7 linked regions of the Homo sapiens genome follow. The protein of the gene in region 1 purifies or fractionates together with the protein of each later gene. This does not show direct contact. Each region holds a gene or a part of one and is shown in the gene's direction. Other genes may lie near its edges. The genes, in order: ERLIN2, ECH1, TUBA8, GSTM5, CAT, CACNA2D1 and FKBP14.

The links.
Region 2: the proteins of ERLIN2 (region 1) and ECH1 purify together in Homo sapiens (co-immunoprecipitation; one large-scale study listed by IntAct). This does not show direct contact.
Region 3: the proteins of ERLIN2 (region 1) and TUBA8 purify together in Homo sapiens (affinity purification with mass spectrometry; 2 studies listed by BioGRID and IntAct, with this or other methods). This does not show direct contact.
Region 4: the proteins of ERLIN2 (region 1) and GSTM5 purify together in Homo sapiens (affinity purification with mass spectrometry; 3 studies listed by BioGRID and IntAct, with this or other methods). This does not show direct contact.
Region 5: the proteins of ERLIN2 (region 1) and CAT purify together in Homo sapiens (affinity purification with mass spectrometry, with the first as the bait; one large-scale study listed by BioGRID). This does not show direct contact.
Region 6: the proteins of ERLIN2 (region 1) and CACNA2D1 purify together in Homo sapiens (affinity purification with mass spectrometry; 2 studies listed by BioGRID and IntAct, with this or other methods). This does not show direct contact.
Region 7: the proteins of ERLIN2 (region 1) and FKBP14 purify together in Homo sapiens (affinity purification with mass spectrometry; 3 studies listed by BioGRID and IntAct, with this or other methods). This does not show direct contact.

What each region holds. Positions count from the first base shown.
Region 1 is NC_000008.11:37,756,278-37,758,922, forward strand, and holds the end of ERLIN2 (erlin-2), read left to right. Parts: 3' UTR 1-2,145; downstream 2,146-2,645. UniProt on the Homo sapiens protein: Component of the ERLIN1/ERLIN2 complex which mediates the endoplasmic reticulum-associated degradation (ERAD) of inositol 1,4,5-trisphosphate receptors (IP3Rs) such as ITPR1.
Region 2 is NC_000019.10:38,825,295-38,828,794, reverse strand, and holds part of ECH1 (delta(3,5)-Delta(2,4)-dienoyl-CoA isomerase, mitochondrial precursor), read left to right. Parts: intron 1-3,500. UniProt on the Homo sapiens protein: Isomerization of 3-trans,5-cis-dienoyl-CoA to 2-trans,4-trans-dienoyl-CoA.
Region 3 is NC_000022.11:18,109,532-18,113,608, forward strand, and holds the start of TUBA8 (tubulin alpha-8 chain), read left to right. Parts: upstream 1-1,277; 5' UTR 1,278-1,334; coding exon 1,335-1,337; intron 1,338-4,077.
Region 4 is NC_000001.11:109,715,251-109,718,768, forward strand, and holds the end of GSTM5 (glutathione S-transferase Mu 5), read left to right. Parts: intron 1-2,086; coding exon 2,087-2,176; 3' UTR 2,177-3,018; downstream 3,019-3,518. UniProt on the Homo sapiens protein: Conjugation of reduced glutathione to a wide number of exogenous and endogenous hydrophobic electrophiles.
Region 5 is NC_000011.10:34,448,934-34,452,433, forward strand, and holds part of CAT (catalase), read left to right. Parts: intron 1-258; coding exon 259-430; intron 431-2,054; coding exon 2,055-2,165; intron 2,166-3,143; coding exon 3,144-3,274; intron 3,275-3,500. UniProt on the Homo sapiens protein: Catalyzes the degradation of hydrogen peroxide (H(2)O(2)) generated by peroxisomal oxidases to water and oxygen, thereby protecting cells from the toxic effects of hydrogen peroxide.
Region 6 is NC_000007.14:82,437,278-82,440,777, reverse strand, and holds part of CACNA2D1 (voltage-dependent calcium channel subunit alpha-2/delta-1 isoform 1 preproprotein), read left to right. Parts: intron 1-3,500. UniProt on the Homo sapiens protein: The alpha-2/delta subunit of voltage-dependent calcium channels regulates calcium current density and activation/inactivation kinetics of the calcium channel. Plays an important role in excitation-contraction coupling.
Region 7 is NC_000007.14:30,013,395-30,016,702, reverse strand, and holds part of FKBP14 (peptidyl-prolyl cis-trans isomerase FKBP14 precursor), read left to right. Parts: intron 1-1,809; coding exon 1,810-1,968; 3' UTR 1,969-3,308. UniProt on the Homo sapiens protein: PPIase which accelerates the folding of proteins during protein synthesis. Has a preference for substrates containing 4-hydroxylproline modifications, including type III collagen. May also target type VI and type X collagens.

The sequences.
Region 1 (2,645 bases):
TTGTTAGAGCAACATGACATGCCCAGCATCCCACTTCCCGAAAATGTCTACTCCTTCTACTCTGAGCTCTTGTTGCCTAGACCTCAGAAAACACCAATTCACCACAGTAGAACCGGGAGCAGGGATAGCTCAGCTTCTCTGAATAGCACACTTTGCTCAGGTCTTAACTTGAGGGCCTCTCCGGTACTAACATCCTGCGATAGCTTGTCCCATGAGCACAGAAGAGCCTCAGTAGAGTCAAGTCCTGCTGCAGCTGCCCCACCCCAAGTTTCTATCATTTCCTCTTTAAACAAAAAATATGTTATCCTACACATTAGTGTCAATCCAATGGTTGTCTCTTATCTGTCTAAATAGCAAAATCATGAAAATCAGCTGTTTTATTTGCATAGGACAACTAACCTGTCTGTGTAACTTTGTTTTTATTTTAACTCTTACTAGAAAATCTAATCTTAAAACATTTGAATTCTAAACATGTAAAATGTGACAGCCTGCAATTTTGTAGACAGTGAAGTAATGGCTGCTATTTATAAATGGAACATCTATCAAAATAAGTAACTGTTTATAAAATTCAGTTTTTGTAGGGTTTTCCAAGGAAAAATCACCTTGGTTGAATGTTTCTCACTCATTAAACTTTGCAGAAGTGATTCATATTCAGTACTGTTTTTAATCACTTTTTAAAATATAAGGACCGAATGCAAGGAAACCAAAGTTTATTAATAATTTTTATATAACTAAAATAAAATAGATGTGGAGGGATCTGTGATCATATAAAAAGGGAGGGTTACTGAAAGAATTTTAGCAATATATTGATTCAGGAAAAGGAGCTGTTTTATAAATGATCATTCACTGTTCCTATGGTTCTATGTATCTTTCAAACCGATACCTTTACTATTTAAAGAGCGTAAATAGTGAAAGTAAGATGGTCATACTTACTGACTTTATCTATTTAAGTTTGATGGAGATAAACTATATCTTGGCTAGTGGCTACTGTGTCTGTGAATGTAACCAGTACTTCTTTAAGCTCTATTCAGTAGGGTTCCAGCCACTGCTTTTTTGTTGTTTCTAGCCACTGTTTTTTTTTTCTTGTTTCCTTATAAAACAGGTAATAACCAATCATTTTGTGTTTGTATTTCCATTCCTTTTTATTTCTGCCTTTGTGTAGACTGATGATTAAGTAGGCAAACTACTTCTACTTTCAAAGAGCCCCAAGGGCTTAATGACCCCATTTGTAACTGAGAAATGATTCTTGTTTTAGTAATCATTCTATAAATGATACTGCTGGATTGATTGCCGTGGGTTGATAGCTGGAGGAATTGTTTTGGACAATACTAACATGTGAATTTATGTCTTAGTTTTATTTGCAGTCTTGCTAAGTAAAATGAGTCTTTGTATCTACTTTTTTATTAAAGTGAAATTTAGCAATAGTTAATATTAGGTGACATAAATAAAACATCCCAGACTAGTGAGTTAAGTACAAGATCTCTCTAAAAATAAACAGATGAAAATCTATCCCCATTATCGATACAGAATTTGTGAACGTGGCATAATTCTTGGTAGGTGCTATAGAGATTTATCATTTTAAACAGTTCACACACCACTGCAATTCTGCTCCAAAGGACAAAGATATTTTCAAGTGAACCAAAATTCATTTTGATATCAGTTCAGTGGACGAACTCCCAGTCTTTACTCTGGAAAGCTGCCCAGCTTAGGGTTGCCAGATAAAACATAAGATACCTAGTTAAATATGAATTTCAACAATGTACAATTTTTAGTCTAAGTACTATGTGTCCTAAACACTGCATGAGACATACTCATACCAAAGTATTTGTTGCTTATGTGTAATTCATATTTAACTGGGTATCCTGTATTTTTACTTGTTAAGTCCGGCAACCCTAGCCCAGGCTTTCTCAGGTTTTTTTTAACAGGGATCCCAAGCTTTTTCTATTGGTTTGAGAGCCTGCTACACAAATAATATGATCTTAACAATTGAATAGTTATGTTAAGAGTGTAGTTACTGCAGTTAGACTGCCAAAGTTCAAATCACTGCTCTACTACTTCTTAGGTGTGTGGTCTTGAATAAGTTTTTTGACCTCTCTAAGCCTCAGTTTCTTCATTAATAAAATGAGTTGCATGGCTTATATGAAATAATGCATACGAAGGGCTTTCACACTGTACCTTGCATGTATGTATTCAAAAACTTCAATCTGGAGAAACGGGCTAAAAAACATACAGCTATTAAATGGGAGCCACTAAGTAGAAAGCCAAACACGTGAAAAAAAATGGAATAAGATTACAAATGGGATAGCACATAGAAGAAGGGAATGACATTGCAATGCAGCAAACACAGTATTGAGGATACATACCTCTACAAAAATGTTGTGTAGAAAATAACCTGGTTTAAAGAAAGAAAAGAAAAGAAAAGAAGCCAGGCACGGTGGTTCACACCTGTAATCCTAGCACTTTGGGAGGCTGAGGTGGGTGGATCACCTGAGGTCGGGAGTTCAAGACCAGCCTGACCAACATAGAGAAACCCCATCTCGACTAAAAATAGAAAATTAACCGGGCATGGTGGTGCATGCCTGAAATCCCAGCTACTTGGGAGGCTAAGGCAGGAGAATCACTTGAACCTGGGAGGTAGAGGATGC
Region 2 (3,500 bases), on another chromosome or scaffold:
AAAAAAAGAATATTAGCCAGGCATGGTGGCGGGCACCTTTAGTCCCAGCTACTCGGGAGGCTGAGGCAGGAGAATGGCGTGAACCTGGGAGGCAGAGGTTGCAGTGAGCCGAGATGGCGCCACTGCACTCCAGCCTGGGTGACATAGCGAGACTCCCTCTAAAAACAAAATAAAAACAAAACAAAAACTCCTTATCTTCTAATCTCAACATCTGGGTCATCTTGGGGTCAGTCTCCTTATCATCTTTTCGCTTGGAAATGGCAGGCTGGGCTCAGTGGCTCATGCCTGTAATCCCAGCACTTTGGGAAGCTGAGGTGGGTGGATCACTTGAGGTCAGGAGTTCAAGACTAGCCTGGCCAACATGGTGAAACCCCGTCTGTACTAAAAATACAAAAATTTTCCCGGCGTGGTGGTGCATGCCTGTAATCCCAGCTGCTGGAGAGCCTGAGGCAGGAGAATCGCTTGAACCCAGGAGGCAGAGGTTGCAGTGAGCCTACATCACGCCATTGCACTCCAGCCTTGGTGACAAGAGCGAGACTCTGTCTCAAAAAAAAGAAAACGGCTTCACTTTCCTGTTTCTTTGTATTTTGAGTTAGTTTGGATTGTTTCTTGGATATTGGGATATAGGAATAAGATGTGGATACTCTGGATTCTATCATATAGTTCCAAAGAGTGTTGAGTTTCGTGTTTTGGTAGCTTAGTTGGAATTAGTTTTTTTGGTTTTTCTGTTTTTATTTTTATTTTTTTGTAGAGATGAGGTCTTGCTATGTTGCCCAGTCTGGTCTTCAACTCTTGAACTCAAGCGATCCTCCTGACTCGGCCTCCCAATGTGCTGGGACTACAAGCGTGAACCACTGTGCCTGGCTTCTTGCTGATTTACAGACCATACATGCACCCCCAGCAAAAGATTTAAAAACTAATCTTCAGCCAGGGCAACACACTGAGACCTTGTCTCTAACAAAAATTAGCTGGGTGTGATGAATGACCACACTCCCAGCTACTCTGGAGGCTGAGGTGGGAGGATGGCTCGAACCAGGGAGGTCAAAACTGCAGTGAGCTGTGGTCGTGCCACTGCACCCAGCCTGGGTGACAGTGCAAGAACCCATCTCAAAACAAAAACAACAACAAAAACATACATCTCCCAGCAAGAGATTAGGGCAGAGTTGATACACAGAATTCGGGACTCCTCGCTCTGGCTCTCCCCTCTTTGGAATATCCCCCCTCACTTCCCGGCAGCTTTGGTCACCTTGGACTCTATCCTGTGGCTCTTCAAGCACAATTTCAGTCTGCCCTCAGGCTGAAAGTTTTCAAAACCATTTTCAAAAACACCGAGAGAGTGTTCTGCCACTCTCCTAAGTGGTCACTCCCTCCAGAATCTGCCCAGTGCCTTCAGATAATTGTTTGTTTCTTGTCCAGCCAGCGTATGTAGTTGTCCGTGGGAGGGTTGGCCCTTTAGGACTGAACCAGAAGCAAAATATTTCATACACTGATTTCTGCACAGGGCCCAGAGCCTGGTGCTGGGAACCCAGTCTTGACTAGGACAGTCCCAGGCCCTGTTGTCATGGCGTTCCCAACTCAGTGGGGAAGACAGACAGTAAACTATTTCTTTCTGTTTTGTCCATTAACATATTCCCAGGTCCCTTTCTTTCTTTCCCTCCCCTTTCTCCCTCCCCTCCCTCCCTCTCCTCCCTTCCTCCTTCCCCTCCCTCCCTCTCCTCCCTTCCTCCTTCCCCTCCTTCCCCTCCTTCTCCCTCTCCTCCCTGTCCTCCCTCTCCATCCTTGCTGAGGGCCCTGGTCCCTCTGGCTAAGATTAGGCCTAGATATTTGACCTGCTGTAGGCAAAGCTGGGCCTTTGACCTAGACACCTTGTACCCTTGATTAGCGAGAAAGTTCAAGAGATCTAGAGTAGCCTGCTGGCTCGAGGCTTCTGAACTGGGAGCCAAAAGTAAATCATCCATATATTGAAGGACCAGAGTGCCTGGACTTGAGAAGTGGCCTAGATCTTGGGCCAGTGCCTGACCAAACAGATGAGGCCTATCCCTAAACCCTTGGGGCAAGACCGTCCACATAATTTGGGACGTGTGGTCTGTGGGATCCTCAAAGGCAAAGAGAAACTGGGAGTCAGAGTGTAGGGGAATACAGAAGAAGGCATCCTTGAGGTCTAGAACTGTGAACCATTCTGCTGCCTCTGTTATTTGAGAGAGCAGGGTATAGGTGTTGGTTACAGCTGGATATAGAGAAATTACTGCCTCATTGATGAGTCTAAGATCTTGCACTAGTCTCCACTGACCATTTAGTTTTTGTACTCCTAGAATTGGGGTGTTGTAGGGACTGCTGCATTTCCTTACTAAGCCTGGAGCTTTTAAATGTTTAACAATATTCTGTAATCGTTTATGAGCTTCAGGCTTTAAGGGATATTGCCTTTGATAAGGAAAAGCAGTGGGATCTTTTAACCTGATTTGTAATGGGCGGGCATTTTTTGCCCTTCCAAATTGTCCTTCCAATGCCCAGACTTCAGGGTTGATTCCCTCCACAAGTAGGGGGACAACAAATGGGTAACTTGTTCCCCATATTGATGTAGATAATAGCTCCAGCCTTGGCTAATATGTCCCTGCCTAATAAGGGTGTGGAACTTTCAGGCATAATAAGAAAGGCATGTGAAAAGAGCAAAGTCTCCCAATTACAACTGAGAGGTGGGAGAAATACCTGGTTACAGGCTGTCCCAGGATTCATCGGATGGTAACAGACCTTGAGGACAGTCGTCCAGGACAGGAGATTAACACTGAGAAGGCCGCGCCAGTGTCCAGGAGGAAGTCAGTTTCCTGGCCCTCAATGGTTAAACGTACCCGGGGCTCAGTGAGGGTGATGACATGAGCTGGCGCTTGCCCCGGGCACCCTCTGTCCTGTTGTTGGATCATCTGGTTGGGGGCTTCTGACCTAGGGAACCTTCGTCCGCTGGGGCAGTGCACCTTCCAGTGATTGCCTCGGCATAGTGGACATGGACGAGGGGGCAGCTTGTTTCTCATTGGACAATCTTTTTTAAAGTGTCCTAGTAAACCGCATGATAACAAGCCCTACCGGGTGATTGGCCTCTACTATCTGTCCTCTCTGAACCACTAAGGTTTGTTAGTCTGAGGGCCATAACTAAGGCTGCGGCCTTTCTCCAATCTCACTTTTCCTTTTGGGCCTGTTCCTCTTGGTCCCTATTATAGAACACTGAGGTTGCCAGGTTTTGATAATGCCTCCAAATTTTGTTCAGGGCCCAGGGCTTGCTTTTGGAGCTTTCTCCTGATATCTGCGGCTGATTGGATAATAAACTTATCTTTTAGAATCAATTGACCCTTGAGTGATTCGGGTGACCGGGGAGTATATTTTCTTAAGGCCTCCTATAGCTGCTCGAGGAAGGCAGAAGGATTTTCTTCCTTTCCCTGAGTTATGGTGGACATCATTGAATAATTCATGGGCTTTTTCTAATTCTCCTTAGTCCTTCTAGAACACAG
Region 3 (4,077 bases), on another chromosome or scaffold:
GGTAAAGCACTGTGTTTGGTACTCTCTCAAATGCAAAGATGATTACGACACATGTACTATCGTTTATGAATGGGTGGCCAACAGAACAGATTGCCGCATAGGTAAGCAGAAATCTGCTCTCATTCTCTATTGGCCACAAGCAGGCATGTCTTAGGAGCAGAAGGGTAGGAAGATCTCTAACTGTGCTTGGAAACTTGGGGAGTTACCACGTCTGGCTAAAGTGGTATTGTCTTAAGGAAAACCTATGAATTTGCCTGCGTTGGCTTGGTGCTGAGGAAAGTGGAAGAGAGAGGCTGGGGTACACCTTTCAACATGAATGGAACTGACCACTGGAGGGAAAGAACAAGAAACAGCAGTGAGAACAAGGAACAAAGACCATCCAGCCCCTCACCCACCTGGGGGGAAGTGAGGGGAGATGGGCAGGGTGACAACGTGGCCAACATCTAAAGTGTGAAGAGGGGCTTTTACCAAGTGCCCACCCCTTCCCGAGCAGGGGGCAACCAACAGCATCTGGCGGGTCTTACTACTGGGCAGAGGCAGGGGAACCCTGGTATGAGTTCTGGATTACATAGGAGATGTGACTTGGACACGTTTGGGGCTTAAAAGTAGGAAGGGATCAAGGGGGGAGATTTGAAAATCCCGGTGGAGGTGCGAGGTATCCGGGGAGAGGGTAAAAACGGGAACAGTCTTCAGCACCTGCCTGTACCAGGAGCTCTGTGTATGCCATCTCATTTCCGTCTCCAGCAACCAGGCGGGCCTTGGCGGCAGGAGGCACAGGCTTTGGGAGCAGAGGCCCTGCAGCTTGCCAAGCACACACGGCCCTAGGGCGCCCAGCTGAGACGGCACCTTGGCACCCGGGCCCGCTGCAGCCCGCTCCGGTCAGCTGCACCCCAGTCAGGAGCCTTTCCAGCGGGTCGGAGGAGAACGGAAGTTTGGGGAGACCCGCGCGATTCGCCTGGCTGCATTTTACATTTCTTTCTCCGGCAGCTGGGGTCACGAAGGCTGCTCTCGCCGGCGGTGTTGGAACGTGGACACGTGCGCTTTGGTAATAGGGCAGCCTCCCCCGCGGGCGCAGTCCCCGCTGCGAGCGCCCCCGGCTGCTGAGGCGGGACCGAGGACCCGGAGATTTGAGCCGCGGGTGGGCGGGGAGGGGCCTTTGTGACCTGCCCGCCCCTCCCCGGCACTGTGATGCCGGGGGGCAGCTGCGGGCCCGGCGCGCCTGTCCCCGGCGTCCCCCCCTCCCGGTGTGTCACAACGGCGGAGGCGGCTGTATCTGGAGCAGTCGGGGCGGGCAGGCCCAGCTGAGAGGTGCGCGGGCGAGGACAGCGGCAGCGATGGTGAGGCTTCCCGGGGCCAGGCGGGCTGCGGGCGCGCGGCAGGCGTAGGACCGAGAGCCGAGTCTACGCGGAGGCGCACGGACCCGTCTTCCTGGAGCCGCAGGGCTCAAGGCCTTCTGGGGGTGGCAGTTCAGGGTCGAGGAGTCCGCACCCTCGGGCGGGAACACCCGGTGCCCTTTATCGTATGGGGGAAATAGAGACCAGGGGCCAGTTGTTCCTTAAAGGGACCTAAGGGAGCTTTGCGTGCAGACGAGGGGGAGGGAGGCCCTGGGGAGCCCGACGGAGAAGGGGGCGAGATTCTGGGGTCCCCAGATGGGCAGCCTGTGGACAGAGTGGAGAGAAGGGCGAGTCCGGGGATTCTGGATGGGTGGTCTGGGCCGGGGCGACTGGGGGGCCAGATGCAGTCACGTCTCCGAACCCAGCCTAATGTGACAGGGCCCGGAATGTGACAGAGGACCTAGGGCGCCACGGTCCCCCCACGCGTGGAGGTCTTTCTCGCAAGCCTGGCCAGCGGCTTGGGTTTGCTGCACGCACAGCCCCAGCGCGGCGGGGTCCTCCGGGCGCACTCAGCAGCTCCCAAGTCTTTCCAGCGGTCAGAGTCGAAGGACTTTGGGAGTAAGAAGTCTCTGCTTCCAAAGGCCAGGGGACCTTCGACCTGTTTCCTACCCTGGCTTAGGGGGATCGCGGCTGCTCCCTTCCCTGCCCCCGCCCCTGGATCTTACTGAGGGGCGGCTGCAAACACTCAGTTCCTCTTTCTAGGGTCCCCCTCTCCGCCCCCAGTGCCCCTGGTGGTTAACATTTGCCCCCAGTCCACTTTCCCAAAGCCCAGAATCCCAGGAATCCCTCCTGGACCCCTGATCTTTCAGCAGTAGGGAGATGGGCTGGAAAGATTGGGGGCAGAGTGAGGGCAGAATAAGCCTATGTCATGGCCAAGGTCGGGTTCCCTGGGCAGGCTTGCTCCAGGTGTCAGTGATCCAGAAAGCAGGCGAGAACCCCCTCCGCCCCGCCCTGTTACGTTTGGCCCGTGCCCAGGGCCTCCTGGCTCCCCCGGAGCTCTAGCCTTCCAGCTTCAGTTTTGTCAGCACCCTCCCTCCTCCTAGCGGGCTCCCAGACACCCCTGGGAACTGAAAGAACTTGGGAATATTAGGGAGGGTGGCCACAGGAACCTATTTCTGCCTGAGGACCCTGGTATGAGGCCACACAAAGGGCCCGGAGCTGCCAGTTCAGAATTTTGACTCCTGGCTCTGCAGCTAGCTGTGTGACTTCAGGAAGGTCACTTAACCTCTCTGGATGTGTTTGTTTTACCTGCGAAATGAAGAGGGTTATAATTCAAATTTCCAAGACTCCACTTAGATTTCATTATTTTTAAACTTTTTATGGTAGGGAATTTCAAACATATGCAAACGGAGAGCAAATGGTATAATTAGCGATTATATACATCATCTAAGTTCAATAATTACCAACTTCTGACCTGTCTCACTTCATTTATTCCCTCCCTCCATAATTTTGAAGCAAATGCTAGGCTGCATACTCTAGAATTGATATTTAATATTTATAATATCTAGCAGGTAGCTAGTGTTTTAGGATTTTCCAAGTGCTTCCCTTGCATGCTTTAATTTGGATCTGAATGCCATTGTGGTACAGAGTGGAGCCCAGAGGATGTTTACAGGGGCGTGTCGAGGATCTTAACCCAGCCCTGTGCACAAGCTTGAATGTGTGATCCACAGACGTGTTTCTGACAATGCCTGGTAAATCAACAATTCAAACAGCAAAACTTTATTTTGAACGTGCTTAAGAATTTGGGTGTTTAGCTGAAAACCTATGGTTAAATATTTTGAAATGCGACCACCTTTCATTTATTTTGAAACACTCAATTTTGTCTAGTAGGTTCTATCTAGAACATTTAACTTGTGTGCGTTGCACTGTCTTGATGGCTAATATTTTTTGTTGAACATTTTACACTCACAGAAACTTTTAAAATATCATTTGGCTCATTTGTAAAAGGCTAAAATGACACATCTATAAACCTAGACCCCTAGAATCTCACCCTTACAAAAATGACTGTATTTCTTCTAAGGATTAAGTTTCAGGCTGCTGTCCTGTCCCCTTCACTTCCCTCCCTGGTGGGGGTTTGGGGGAGGTGACCTTGGTGTTAAGGAGAATTCGATTTGGAATTTCTGTAGGCTCTGGGCAAGAAAAGTGTAACTAATCCTTAAGTGTATTTTTAAATGCATTTCTCTAGCTGCTAGGCAGATGAGCATTTTTCCTCTGTGAACTTACCCCCAACCCCTTCTCCCCAGCTACCCACTGCACGGTACCACCAATACCCTTTAGCATTTCTGTCCTGGAGCCTAAAGTGACACAGCTGGTAAGAAGCTGCGTAGGGGCTGGAGTTTACATCTGCTGGGCACCAGAGCCTCTGTCCTGAGCCACCTGCCCGTGCTGGGACCGGCAGGCTACTCCCACAGCAGACCATTCCCATCCATTCCCAGTGTTCTAGCACGCAGCTCTCTGGGAACTCAGACTATGACACCTTTTTTGGGAAGTGGTATGGAGAATCCTGGCCAGGTGCCCTAAGCCAAGCCCATGCCAATGATACCAGGGCACAGAGAAGTTTTCTGTGGTTTATGGGGAGGTGGGAACATCTGCAACACGGCTTCTTTAACTCCATTCCGTTAGGACTGGAGAGCACGAAGGAGCCCGTCTCCCTGCAAAAATGGGCAGTTAGAGGGTTCTGGGG
Region 4 (3,518 bases), on another chromosome or scaffold:
CATCCTCCTTTCTCTTTGATGCCCCTTGTTCCTTTCTCTCCTTTCAGATGCTTTCCCAGTCCTGGAGCTACACAAAGAATAACTCGTATGTATTGAGTACGGGCTTCATGCCAGGAATCATGCCCAGCACATTATACCTATCGTGTAGAATTTGAAATTTCCAACATTCCTACAGGGTGACAGAATTATCTTGCCCATTTTAGAGATAAGAAAACTGAGAATGAGAGGGTCAGTCCTTTGCTCAGGGTCCCAGAGCCAGTGGAGGCTGTGCTGGGCTCCCTGTGAGCCTCTGGATCTATGGGTGGCAGTCAGGGCTCTCCCATTTGTGACAAAAGGAGAAGCCTCAGGCCTCATCCAGCCTGGGTTTCACAGCCCAGAACACTTTGAAAGAGGCAGAGCACTTCAGGACCACGGATGCAGCTGGCAATAGTAGGACTGACACACAGTGGCATTGATGTTGAGTACTAAACCTGCAGGCAGTATTCATAGCCACCCCCAGAAGCTTTGCATGATCGGACCCCCATGTGGAAAATCCTGAGATCCGGAGCTGTGGCTGGAGCTGGATTAGGGTACATATGTGGGTGCCCCTGTTGAAGCAGTGTGTGTTGAAGTGCTCTGTGCTGGGGCACTCTCCTTCTTTATCTTTCTTCCTCTCTTTTTTTCCCTCCAATGTTCCACGTCTTCCCCCTGTGAGATGAGTAGCACACTGATTTTACTCCTATTCACCGACCTTCTCCTCTGCATGAGGCAGGGTGTGAGGCACAGTGGGAGTTGCATAGATGACTGCCCCATCCTGGAAATGAGTGCAGTGAGAGGCCTGCAGGCAGAGCAGCCTGTGAGGTGTGTGTGGCACCACCTGGGTACCGGGCCTGGGGCCTGCCCCTCACTCACGGGGAACCATCCCTCACCTGTGTTGAAGTTGTTTGAGAGCAGCAAATCCTACTTTAGTACAGATTTGGGGATTTGAGGCATTAGTCCAACAGGCTTCTGAGCCTAGAATCTGTTTCCCTTTCCCACTCCCCATCAAGAAATCTGCTTGCTCAGCTAGTTCCCATCAGCTCTGGTTCTGGTCCAGCCTGAGCAGCCTTGGGGTTATGTAAGAGGTGGTGGGAGGGGAGCGGTGGGGAACAGCCGAGGGCTGGGGCATGGAGCCTGCCTGGGCCTGGCCCTGGCCCTTTGGGGAGAGGGAGCCCTGGATCTCTTTGAATTCTTTAGAAGTTACATGGTCATTGAATCCTGGTAAGATTGTGTGCAGCACACCTGAGTGTCATGTGGCCTGGCTAGCAGTAGTAGGGCTGGAGATGTGATGGGGGCACAGGGACATAGGGAGATTTAGCTCAGGTACCAGGTGGAGAAGTTTGGACTTTATGCTTTAATGGGAATGATTAGAGCCTGGTCTGGCCTTCCTTTGGTGGTTCACCCTTACCCTATTCAGTTTCATCCAGGTTTTGCTAAGTCATTGGGTGAGATCTGTGCTCTCTTCTTGGCTGCACAGGTGTGTTCTGAGCCCCTTTGTTCTGCTGGAGGTCCTTTCTGTGTGTGCAATCCTAGGCAAGCCAAGAACCTCCCTGTGAAAAAGGAGAATGTTTGTGCCGACAAGGAGTGACAGGATCTGGCATGGGGTGTGGCTGGGTGGAAGAGGAGGAGAATTTGGCAAAAACATGCTAGAACTGAAGACAGAACCAGGCTATATTCCAGCCCTGTCCCACTTACTAGCTATTTGAGTGTGAGGAAGTTGCTGAACTTCTGTTCTTCTATATGAGAAACGGTGATAATAGAACTGACCATGGAGGGTAGTCGAGTGGATTTTCTAAGCCTGTGTTGTAATTTCTGTTGGATATAAAGCACCCAGCACAGTGTAGATCTTTCGTAAATGGTAGCTGTTATTATGGTATAACATTACTTAAAGGAAGTTGGAAGAGTTAACTTAGAAGAGCTGGGGACCTAAGAGACCGTGTGATGCTCCAGCACTTGAGCCCACATGGAAAGGCTGTGGCCAGGGCCCTGACCTGCTGTGCCTGCAGCAAAGCTACTTGAGCCCTTCTAGACAGCAGACCTGGCTCTGGCCCCTTCTTCCCGCCCTCAGGGTTTGAAGAAGATCTCTGCCTACATGAAGTCCAGCCAATTCCTCCGAGGTCTTTTGTTTGGAAAGTCAGCTACATGGAACAGCAAATAGGGCCCAGTGATGCCAGAAGATGGGAGGGAGGAGCCAACCTTGCTGCCTGCGACCCTGGAGGACAGCCTGACTCCCTGGACCTGCCTTCTTCCTTTTTCCTTCTTTCTACTCTCTTCTCTTCCCCAAGGCCTCATTGGCTTCCTTTCTTCTAACATCATCCCTCCCCGCATCGAGGCTCTTTAAAGCTTCAGCTCCCCACTGTCCTCCATCAAAGTCCCCCTCCTAACGTCTTCCTTTCCCTGCACTAACGCCAACCTGACTGCTTTTCCTGTCAGTGCTTTTCTCTTCTTTGAGAAGCCAGACTGATCTCTGAGCTCCCTAGCACTGTCCTCAAAGACCATCTGTATGCCCTGCTCCCTTTGCTGGGTCCCTACCCCAGCTCCGTGTGATGCCCAGTAAAGCCTGAACCATGCCTGCCATGTCTTGTCTTATTCCCTGAGGCTCCCTTGACTCAGGACTGTGCTCGAATTGTGGGTGGTTTTTTGTCTTCTGTTGTCCACAGCCAGAGCTTAGTGGATGGGTGTGTGTGTGTGTGTGTTGGGGGTGGTGATCAGGCAGGTTCATAAATTTCCTTGGTCATTTCTGCCCTCTAGCCACATCCCTCTGTTCCTCACTGTGGGGATTACTACAGAAAGGTGCTCTGTGCCAAGTTCCTCACTCATTCGCGCTCCTGTAGGCCGTCTAGAACTGGCATGGTTCAAAGAGGGGCTAGGCTGATGGGGAAGGGGGCTGAGCAGCTCCCAGGCAGACTGCCTTCTTTCACCCTGTCCTGATAGACTTCCCTGATCTAGATATCCTTCGTCATGACACTTCTCAATAAAACGTATCCCACCGTATTGTAATCATGGTACTTGTTTTTCACCCAAACTCAATCATAAATTTATTGAAGAGAAAAGCCATGTCTTACTGAACTTTTTACCTCGAGTATCATTCACAGTTCCTGAAATACAGTAAATGTTTAACACATGTGAAAATTTGAAAGAATTCCCTCAAGGGAAGATTCTGCCAACCTGTACAGTCATTATTGGGATTTAGAGCTCTGGATATAGTTGTATTAACCAGAGAAGATATAGGATAACGTTCAGAAGATTTTACATGTACGTGTCTTAGAGAATGAGCCAGCAGCTCTCTGTAACTTCAGCTTTAATAGCTGCTAGCTGTCCTTTGAATAGCTTAACCTGAGATGGGGCAGCCTGGTTTGTTGGGTCACACAGTAGCAATCTGTGTGGTCAGCAGGTGTCAGTATTTTATATGAAGTCATCTGCAAAGGAGCAGGACTCATTGGATAACCATCTGATGAGCAGGTTCCTCCAACAGTGGCTGGATAGTGGAGTTGGGCCTT
Region 5 (3,500 bases), on another chromosome or scaffold:
TTCAGGCTCCAAAATCATCTTTCTGCTCTTCAGAGCAAGTTTCTTAGCAGATTAGTGTTGAGATTTGTCAAGGGTTTCTGGGGCATCACTAAAAGTTTCAGGCAATGGCCCATCCTGTCAGATTTTAGTACTTTGGACACAGGAAATTAAAAAAGAGGGCAGATGGTATAAACATTGCAAAGCTATGTACCCGTGACAGTGTAAATGAAAGGTTTGATTGTGCTAACTCTCCTGCACTTTCTTTCTGTGTTCCTGTAGAAAGCTGATGTCCTGACCACTGGAGCTGGTAACCCAGTAGGAGACAAACTTAATGTTATTACAGTAGGGCCCCGTGGGCCCCTTCTTGTTCAGGATGTGGTTTTCACTGATGAAATGGCTCATTTTGACCGAGAGAGAATTCCTGAGAGAGTTGTGCATGCTAAAGGAGCAGGTAAGTGCTGTGTTTATTTGCTGTAAAAAGATTGTTTCACAGCACCTGGGTCAAGTGTTATTTCCCAAAGGATTGGAAGACCTTTAACACAAGTGTCAAATCTCCATTTGTGGGAGAAAGGAAAAACATCCAGCAGTAGGGAAATTAGTAAATAAATGATGGTTATTTCCTCAGGTTAAACATTATATATAAAATAGTTTCTTTTAAAAATAGCAGTCTTCCATTTCTCCCATCATTGAAGGAATAAAAATACAATAAGTCCTCACTTAACATCAATAGGTTCTTGGAAACTTTGACTTTAAACGACATGTAATGAAACCAATTTTATGATAGGCTAATTGACGTAAGCAAGAGTTAAGTTCCTATGGCATATTTCTGATTGATAAAACATCATCAAACTTCTAAATAGAGACTCAAAATACCTCTTATATTAAACATTGAAATAAATGTGAGCCATACATACCTTTAAGAAAGATTAGTAAAATAAGATAGTTATTTACTAGCTTATTCCAGTTCAAGGTGGTGGGAGGCCAGAGCCTGTCCTGGCAGGTTGGGGTACAAGGCAAGAGCCAGCCCTGGACAGGATGCTGTCCATTGCAGGGTGGACTCACACTGGGACCATTCAGACATGCCAGTTCACCTAACACGCACATCTTTGGGATGTGGGGGGAAGCTGGAGTACCAGGAGAAAACCTATCTAGACATGGGGAGAACATGCAGACTCCACACAGATGGTGGCCTCAGCTAGGAATAGATTTTTTTCTCATCAACGTTATAATGAAACAACGTTGAACAAAACAATGTTGTTTGAGGACCTGCTGTACAGAAATACAGACATAGACACATGCACTGCAATTGCAACTAAGTTTAAATGATGTACTTACTGGGTAATTACTGGAATGAGCTGCAAAATTTGGGGTAGTTATGTTAGGGTGGTGGGTTTGTGATGATTTTTCCTTTCCTTTTTTCCAACAATTTCTGTAAAACTTTCTTTATCGCTGTTATATCAGACACAAAAGATGGGGGTGGTATTTGAAAGAAAGTGAAAAACTCAGTTGGAAAAAGAGCTCCACAGAAAGGAAGTTTTTCTCTTAGCTTGCTGACTTGGACTTCCAGTTAGGACTTCTGCATTTCTTCATCTCTTCTTCCTGGATAAGGTTTCTCCCCATCTTCTCCAGTGGTTTGTGTGTATTTTTCCATCTTGACTTGTTTAGTTTATTGCTTGCTTTGTATCATCGTTGCTAAGTGTTGAAAAGATTCTTTCTCTTATGTTTTCATCTCCTCTTCTCTCTGTTCTTCACTTTCTCTCATAGGTCCTACCTGTACTTCAGGCCCCTCTGAGACCCTGTGTCCTTGGGCCAACCTTGACGACTTCTAGCCTCACTCACCTCCTTCTCTTGGCTCCAGCTATGTGGCATTCGACTTAGCACTGAATGATAGAATAGGGCTTTGCATTTCACCCTCTTTATTTTGTGTTTGGGCATTTCCCCTTCCTCCAACATACTGGAAGCTCCCAGAAGGCTGGTGCTAACCATCATTTTCTCTTGTCACCCAGGTGCCTGTTGAGGACCTGAATGTCTGAGTAATGGTCTCATGGTAAGGATTTCTGTGTCTTTCTCGTTAGGGGCCTTTGGCTACTTTGAGGTCACACATGACATTACCAAATACTCCAAGGCAAAGGTATTTGAGCATATTGGAAAGAAGACTCCCATCGCAGTTCGGTTCTCCACTGTTGGTAAGTTGGTTTATTGGCGTGATTGGTATGGCTTAACTCAACTTCACCTTTTGGGGATGTTTATAACTTAAAGAAAAAGTTATTAGAAAATAGGAAGCAAGCACTTCTCCAAATTATGTCAAGGTTTTACAGTAGAAGACATATTTGGAGACACATAGGAAGTTACTTGTATTTCTGTTTGTTGAGGTCTTAGGAAATCACACTTACACAGAGGCTACCTCTGCAATTCTGTGACATTTGGAAAGAGCTTTCCTAAAAGTGGTTGCCTCTAACAGAAGAATAGAGTGGAAATCTTATTTAATAACTATGCCTACAGCTGACCTTTATTGAGAATTAATTCTGTGCCAACTGTGGTTAGGTGCTTTACAGATATAATCTCTGATTTGTAGATCTACTTTGCAGAGTGGGATTCTTTTTATTTTTGAGAGGCTAAGTGATGTTTCTCACGTTACAGAGATAGTATTAGATCTATCATACTATATTTCAACATACCTAGTGCTTCACTAGTTCCGTTTCTGTGTCAGTCTCTGCATTTTAAAAATACTGTGGAATGTAAAAATAAATGAAATTAAGAACTAAGAACCAATATTTTAACTCATTTTCTTAATGTTAACCTCATCATTTTGACAACTCACTTATTCTGTTTGTCACTACTTTAAGCCTCATAATTATTTTCTTCCCTTATTTTAATTAAAAGTTCAATTACCTGTTTGAACAAAGTTATCTTATTATGGTAAATGAATGACATTGTCAGCTGTTATTACATGTGTTCTCTTATTGCTCTCAATTAATTATTTTGTTTGATTTGTGGACTGAATTAGCTGGTGGGTAGAAATAATAACCCGGGCACTTAAATACCTAATTTAGTTCTTGGAAGTGGATTAGAAAGGATGGATCCAGGTGCTTCTTTATGTCTCCAGGCTTCTTGGATGCAAAGTGCTGTGGCTTATGCTTCCTGTTTCCATTTGAATATTGTAGCTGGAGAATCGGGTTCAGCTGACACAGTTCGGGACCCTCGTGGGTTTGCAGTGAAATTTTACACAGAAGATGGTAACTGGGATCTCGTTGGAAATAACACCCCCATTTTCTTCATCAGGGATCCCATATTGGTAGGTAATAGAGTATTTTGCACTCAACAAATGTTTGTTGACTTAAATTGATTTCAAATAGGTTGGCATTTGAGGAGAAGCCGTGGGAAAGGCAGAAAGAAAAGAATGCGAGTTGTCTGGACTACTTTTTTCAACACATTTTTCTGTATTTAATAAGATAAAGTAAGAACAGTTACCATTGGTCTTAGATTTGTCATTTTAAGACAGATTGACTTAATGGGAAGTG
Region 6 (3,500 bases), on another chromosome or scaffold:
TATGGTAAAACAAATGATGTGTCAGTTAAGTATCTTCTTTCATTTTTTGCTCTCCTGTTTAACATACATTCTAATATAAATTTTCTTTTGGATTAAAGTAGTAGTTAACCTGTTCTAAGAGTTAACACTAAAATAGATGTTTTTCAGACAAGGAAATTTTGATATGATTATTTCTCTGGGTTAGGTGTTTCTTTTGGAAATGTTTGTCTCCCTAAGGTGTGAAACATAAATACATGATATGGTAGCAGCCACATAATGTGTATTGGTTGATATATAAATGGAAAATATATCATTTTTATGCTATAGTATGCACATGTCGTATTGGTATTTTTAAAATGTAGCTTTCAAAAAGGGTAGTTGTCCGTTTTTCTAGAAATAATTTCTTGTCACATGTTAAAAGACTTCTATTTTAATATTTAGAATTACATGTGTGATAGCCAGTATTATAATGGTAATTTAAATTTGTCCTTAATTTTAGAATCTATTTACAAATGCAATTAAAAAATATATAGTTATAACTGTTAATATCAAACTTTTATCTCAGTCACATCAAAATGCCAGTCAGTCTACAATAATTGGCTGAGAGCCTATTGGTATACAGGGATTTTAATATAAAGTGTACAATGGTATAAATATAAAACTAAGAATTGTGGATATCCACAGGAAATAAGCATAAATTCTCATAGAAGTATAGTACTTTTGGCTTTAATTACTTAGGATATTTTTTTTTCCTGTTATTAGAGAAATTTGTATTTAAGGCTATAAAGGAGAAATTTTGTATGTCAGGATATTGTAATGGATATCTGTTCCATGCATTATAAGTGACATAATTATTCTCACTTGAAGTCAGCAGTTTCTGTTTACATTTTACATACACAAGGAAATGTGCCATATGATCAATTATGAGATAAAATATTAAATGTAAAATAAAACCTGAAACAGTGAACATTAATAAACTTTTCTCAAGTCTTTAATTTTGTTCTCATCGGCTTAACCATATAACATTTACTATTCCACAGATGTATGTTTTAAAATATGCAACAATAGATATATTTTTCCACGTAAGTAGTAATATTATGTTAAATTTATTAATGTTACACATAGCTATATGTGTAGCTATTTGGATTGGCATTTGAATGAAAATTAAGCAGACTGAAATGGATATAATTTTTGAAAAAAATGTAAGAAAATACAAGAATCTAAGCATATTATGGTTTATTAAAGGGAAATGAAATGTGCCTTTATTATCTCCCCCTCCCATGGCTTTCATTAATTTAATTTAATAAATATACATAAAATTTGAATATAAAGTAGGTGGTTCATTTTGACAATAGATAAGAGCTTTACAGTTGTTTTCTTCACAACAAACTGACTGTGTAGACATCTTTCTGTTATTTCTCCAACATTGATAAAACTAACAATAAAATACTCTTCTTTCTAGGGTTTACACATAGTAAATTTTTACAAAAACATAACATATGGAAATTATTATTGTGCTAAAATTTAGTATATATAGGAGTATATATTCATAAACAATAATGCATTGAGAAATTTTACAAATAATTTTTACAATAGTGCTCATAACAAACTATATAATTTACATATTCTCTGGAGTATCATTATATAAAGCACCTCTTAAGGTTTCTCTTGATTTCCCTATTTCTCAATATAGATGCAAGTTTCCAAGAATTTCCTAGCACATGTCTTCAAGCTATTTATAACTTTAAATTGGAGATTTAAATGGGTAAAATGAAACATATCTTAGGCAAATCATGCAATTTGTTGATCTCATTTAATGTCTTATATGTATGGACATAAGCATTTCTAACGTAAGTATACATAACATTTTGGGAAAAAAATCAGAATTTCAGTATTTCAAAAAAGTAACATTTTATTGTTATTAAAATGACAACGGTCCATTATTTCTATTAAAAGAGCTGTCTGTGGTAGTGTTTCAAAAAGCAGGTCAGCTGCTTTCCATGGGGAACAAACTTTGTTCTATTATATCGCCTCCACATTTACTTAAGGCTTACAGTGTGCATCAAGCACTGTGTCACTAACTGTGTCAACCAGTCTTTCTTTTCATGAACTATCTGTGAGCAGTACCACGACTGTTCCCAAGGCTTTCATACAGTTGCTTTCCAGTAAACTAGGAATGGGCTGTGATGGCCAACCATGTAGCTTACACAGGATTCATTTTTTTGTATGTGCACTGAAACATGTAAACGATTGCGTAGTGTTGTTTACAGAGTTGAAAGAAAAAGGCAATTGACCTCAATGTCAATTAAGTAAAAGTGGCAGCACTTTGTGAAAAAATACTATGTTACTACCTTTTCCTTGAGAGTCCAAAATATTAACATCGTATAATTAGATAACTTTCCTAGTTTGTGTCACTATATAGTATTCTATTTAATAGATAGTATTTTATGTATATGCAAATACACATATATACGTGTGTATGTCCATACATATTTTTAAAACTTTAAGTGGATTGACAGAGTAGAAAAACCTCAGTAAGGTAAGTTTATTAACAAGTGTGCATACCTTAGGTCTTCTGTCAGTCCACAACTGTTTTCAGGGATTAAATCTAACTTAATAACACCAGCATTTAAGAATGATTTGCCAAGACAATTAAATGAGATATTGCATACACAAGCAGCCTGAAAATGCTCAAGTCCTATAGAGACGGGTTACTAACATAATTGACAAGTAATTAAAAAAGTGATTCTAAAGACAGTTTTGCTGTCTTTTAAACAAGTGTGAGAAAGAAACTATACCATTTGAAATGTTGGCACCTATTAAAAGTTCTTTACATACTAAGCAGTTTTATTTCTTTCATTTAGATAAGATATACTTTGAAATTTAGAATTAAACATATTTGGTGGTGTGATATTTTAGGAATGAAGGCAAATGTGCACAGGTTTAAAATTTTTATTTGTAAAATATAAGCTCTTAAATATCCCTTCTTTGTAGGCTTTACATCTTTTGTAGTAATTCAGTACATAGAATCAGCTACTCTTAGCAGTTTTTAAAAATGAGTAAAGAAAGCGGTCATTGCTCCTTTATATTTTGCCACTTGTTTGTACAGGTTATGAACGAGGAAAAGATTGACTTTGTGGCCTCAACAAACCGGCACACTTTTTATAGTTAATTTCAATAATTCAGAATTAGGCTGTTATATATAAAGCAATATTTGAAGTTCTCTTTGAATATGAATGTGGGATATTTCTGGCTAAATGTTATTTTAACATTTGCTTCTGCTGATTTTTTTTAACCATATGCTCTGTGGATTTAAAAAATTAGGATACATTTAAAATTCTGTATCATAAATGGAAGAAAAACTTGAACTGGTGGCAGTAGAAAATAATGGTGCTGGCCATTTTAAATGCTTCAGATTTGGGGATAATCTTACTGTCTATTTGAAGCTCTTTTTTTCTGTGTAATTAAAAATACGCTATGGTGGTCTTCTGGCAAATGATGGAAAGCAATTCCAATGTTAT
Region 7 (3,308 bases), on another chromosome or scaffold:
GAAAATGGAGTCCGGGCATGGTGGCTCACACCTGTAATCCCAGCACTTTGGGAGGCCAAGGCAGGCAAATCTTCTGAGGTCAGGAGTTCGAGGCCAGCCTGGCCAACTTGGTGAAACCCTGTCTCTACTAAAAATACAAAAATTAGCCAGGCATGGTGGCAGGTGCCTGTAATCCCAGCTACTAGGGAGTCTGAGGCAGGTGAATCGCTTGAACCTGGGAGTTGGAAGTTGTAGTGGGCCGAGATCGTGCCACTATACTCCAGCCTGCGTGACAGAGCAAGACTCTATTTCAAAAAAAAAAGAAAAACAAAAAAACAAATGAAAATGGAAAATTGTAGTCTAGGCACTTATCAGACCTGACTTTCTGAGATTGAAAGGTTGTGATTAGACTCAATCTAATCACATGATCATAACCAAAACCCAAAAGACCCACTACTTGCAGACATTTATTCAAGTCAAAGATGCCACTATTTAATCTAGTTTTAAGAGAAGTGTCCATGGGGTGCAGTGGCTCATGCTTCTAATCCCAGCACTTTGGGAGGCTGAGGGGTTTAGATTGCTTGAGCCCAGGAGTTCAAGACCAGCCTGGGCAACATGGTGAAACCCCATCTCTACAAAAAATATAAAAGCCAGATGTGGTAGCACATGCCTGTAAGTCCCAGGTACGTGTGAGGCTGAGGTAGGAGGATTGCTTGAGCCTGGGAGGCAGAGGTTGCAGTGAGCTGAGATGGTGCCACTGCACTCCAGCCTGGGTGACAGAGCAAGATTCTGTCTAAAAGGCCGGGCGCGGTGGCTCACGCCTGTAATCCCAGCACTTTGGGAGGCCGAGGCGGGCAGATCACGAGGTCAGGAGATCGAGACCATCCTGGCTAACACGGTGAAACGCCGTCTCTACTAAAAATACAAAAAATTAGCTGGGCGTGGTGGCGGGCGCCTGTAGTCCCAGCTACTCGGGAGGCTGAGGCAGGAGAATGGCGTGAACCCGGGAGGCGGAGCTTGCAGTGAGCCGAGATTGCGCCACTGCACTCCAGCCTGGGCAACAGAGTGAGACTCCGTCTCAAAAAAAAAAAAAAAAAGATTCTGTCTAAAAAAAGAAAAGAAATGCCTAGTATTTAGATTCAGATTAAGAACAAGTAGTATGCTCTCATTGGGTATTCTCCAATAATATAAGCCCTATATGAGGATTGTATACATGACATAAGCTTTATCTCTGCCTTTGAGCAATATATATATAGAGAGAGCTATATATATATATATATTTTTAATTTTTTAATTTTTTATTTTTTTGACAGAGTCTCACTCTGTTGCCCAGGCTGGAGGGCAGCAGCGCAATCTCGATTCACTGCAACCTCTGCCTTCCAGGTTCAAGCGATTCAACTGCCTCAGCCTCCTGAATAGCTGGGATTACAGACGCATGCCATCATGCCTGGCTAACTTTTTTTTGTATTTTTAGTGGAGATGGGCTTTCATTATGTCGGCCAGGCTGATCTCCAACTCCTGACCTCAAGCAATCTTCCCACTTGGGCCTCCCAAAGTGCTGGGATAACAGGCATGAGCCACCACACCTGGCCCTGCCTTTGAGCAATATTTTGTGTCTCCACTTTAGCAGTTTAGCAACAGTTTTTTTAAGGGAAAAAGTTTCTATTATTTTTTAATTATCATTAAAACTATGTCATAAAATGGCTGTTTAGAAGGTATTATATTTAGTTAATGAACTAAATATAATAACAGTCCATGTCTGTGATATTGATTGGCTCAATGTGGGTATCTTATGAATCCAAGTTATTAATGGGATCTGTTATTTTGTAGGTTAAAGCATATTTAAAGAAGGAGTTTGAAAAACATGGTGCGGTGGTGAATGAAAGTCATCATGATGCTTTGGTGGAGGATATTTTTGATAAAGAAGATGAAGACAAAGATGGGTTTATATCTGCCAGAGAATTTACATATAAACACGATGAGTTATAGAGATACATCTACCCTTTTAATATAGCACTCATCTTTCAAGAGAGGGCAGTCATCTTTAAAGAACATTTTATTTTTATACAATGTTCTTTCTTGCTTTGTTTTTTATTTTTATATATTTTTTCTGACTCCTATTTAAAGAACCCCTTAGGTTTCTAAGTACCCATTTCTTTCTGATAAGTTATTGGGAAGAAAAAGCTAATTGGTCTTTGAATAGAAGACTTCTGGACAATTTTTCACTTTCACAGATATGAAGCTTTGTTTTACTTTCTCACTTATAAATTTAAAATGTTGCAACTGGGAATATACCACGACATGAGACCAGGTTATAGCACAAATTAGCACCCTATATTTCTGCTTCCCTCTATTTTCTCCAAGTTAGAGGTCAACATTTGAAAAGCCTTTTGCAATAGCCCAAGGCTTGCTATTTTCATGTTATAATGAAATAGTTTATGTGTAACTGGCTCTGAGTCTCTGCTTGAGGACCAGAGGAAAATGGTTGTTGGACCTGACTTGTTAATGGCTACTGCTTTACTAAGGAGATGTGCAATGCTGAAGTTAGAAACAAGGTTAATAGCCAGGCATGGTGGCTCATGCCTGTAATCCCAGCACTTTGGGAGGCTGAGGCGGGCGGATCACCTGAGGTTGGGAGTTCGAGACCAGCCTGACCAACACGGAGAAACCCTATCTCTACTAAAAATACAAAAGTAGCCGGGCGTGGTGATGCGTGCCTGTAATCCCAGCTACCCAGGAAGGCTGAGGCGGCAGAATCACTTGAACCCGGAGGCGGAGGTTGCGGTAAGCCGAGATCACCTCCAGCCTGGACACTCTGTCTCGAAAAAAAGAAAAGAAACACGGTTAATAACATATAAATATGTATGCATTGAGACATGCTACCTAGGACTTAAGCTGATGAAGCTTGGCTCCTAGTGATTGGTGGCCTATTATGATAAATAGGACAAATCATTTATGTGTGAGTTTCTTTGTAATAAAATGTATCAATATGTTATAGATGAGGTAGAAAGTTATATTTATATTCAATATTTACTTCTTAAGGCTAGCGGAATATCCTTCCTGGTTCTTTAATGGGTAGTCTATAGTATATTATACTACAATAACATTGTATCATAAGATAAAGTAGTAAACCAGTCTACATTTTCCCATTTCTGTCTCATCAAAAACTGAAGTTAGCTGGGTGTGGTGGCTCATGCCTGTAATCCCAGCACTTTGGGGGCCAAGGAGGGTGGATCACTTGAGATCAGGAGTTCAAGACCAGCCTGGCCAACATGGTGAAACCTTGTCTCTACTAAAAATACAAAAATTAGCCAGGCGTGGTGGTGCAC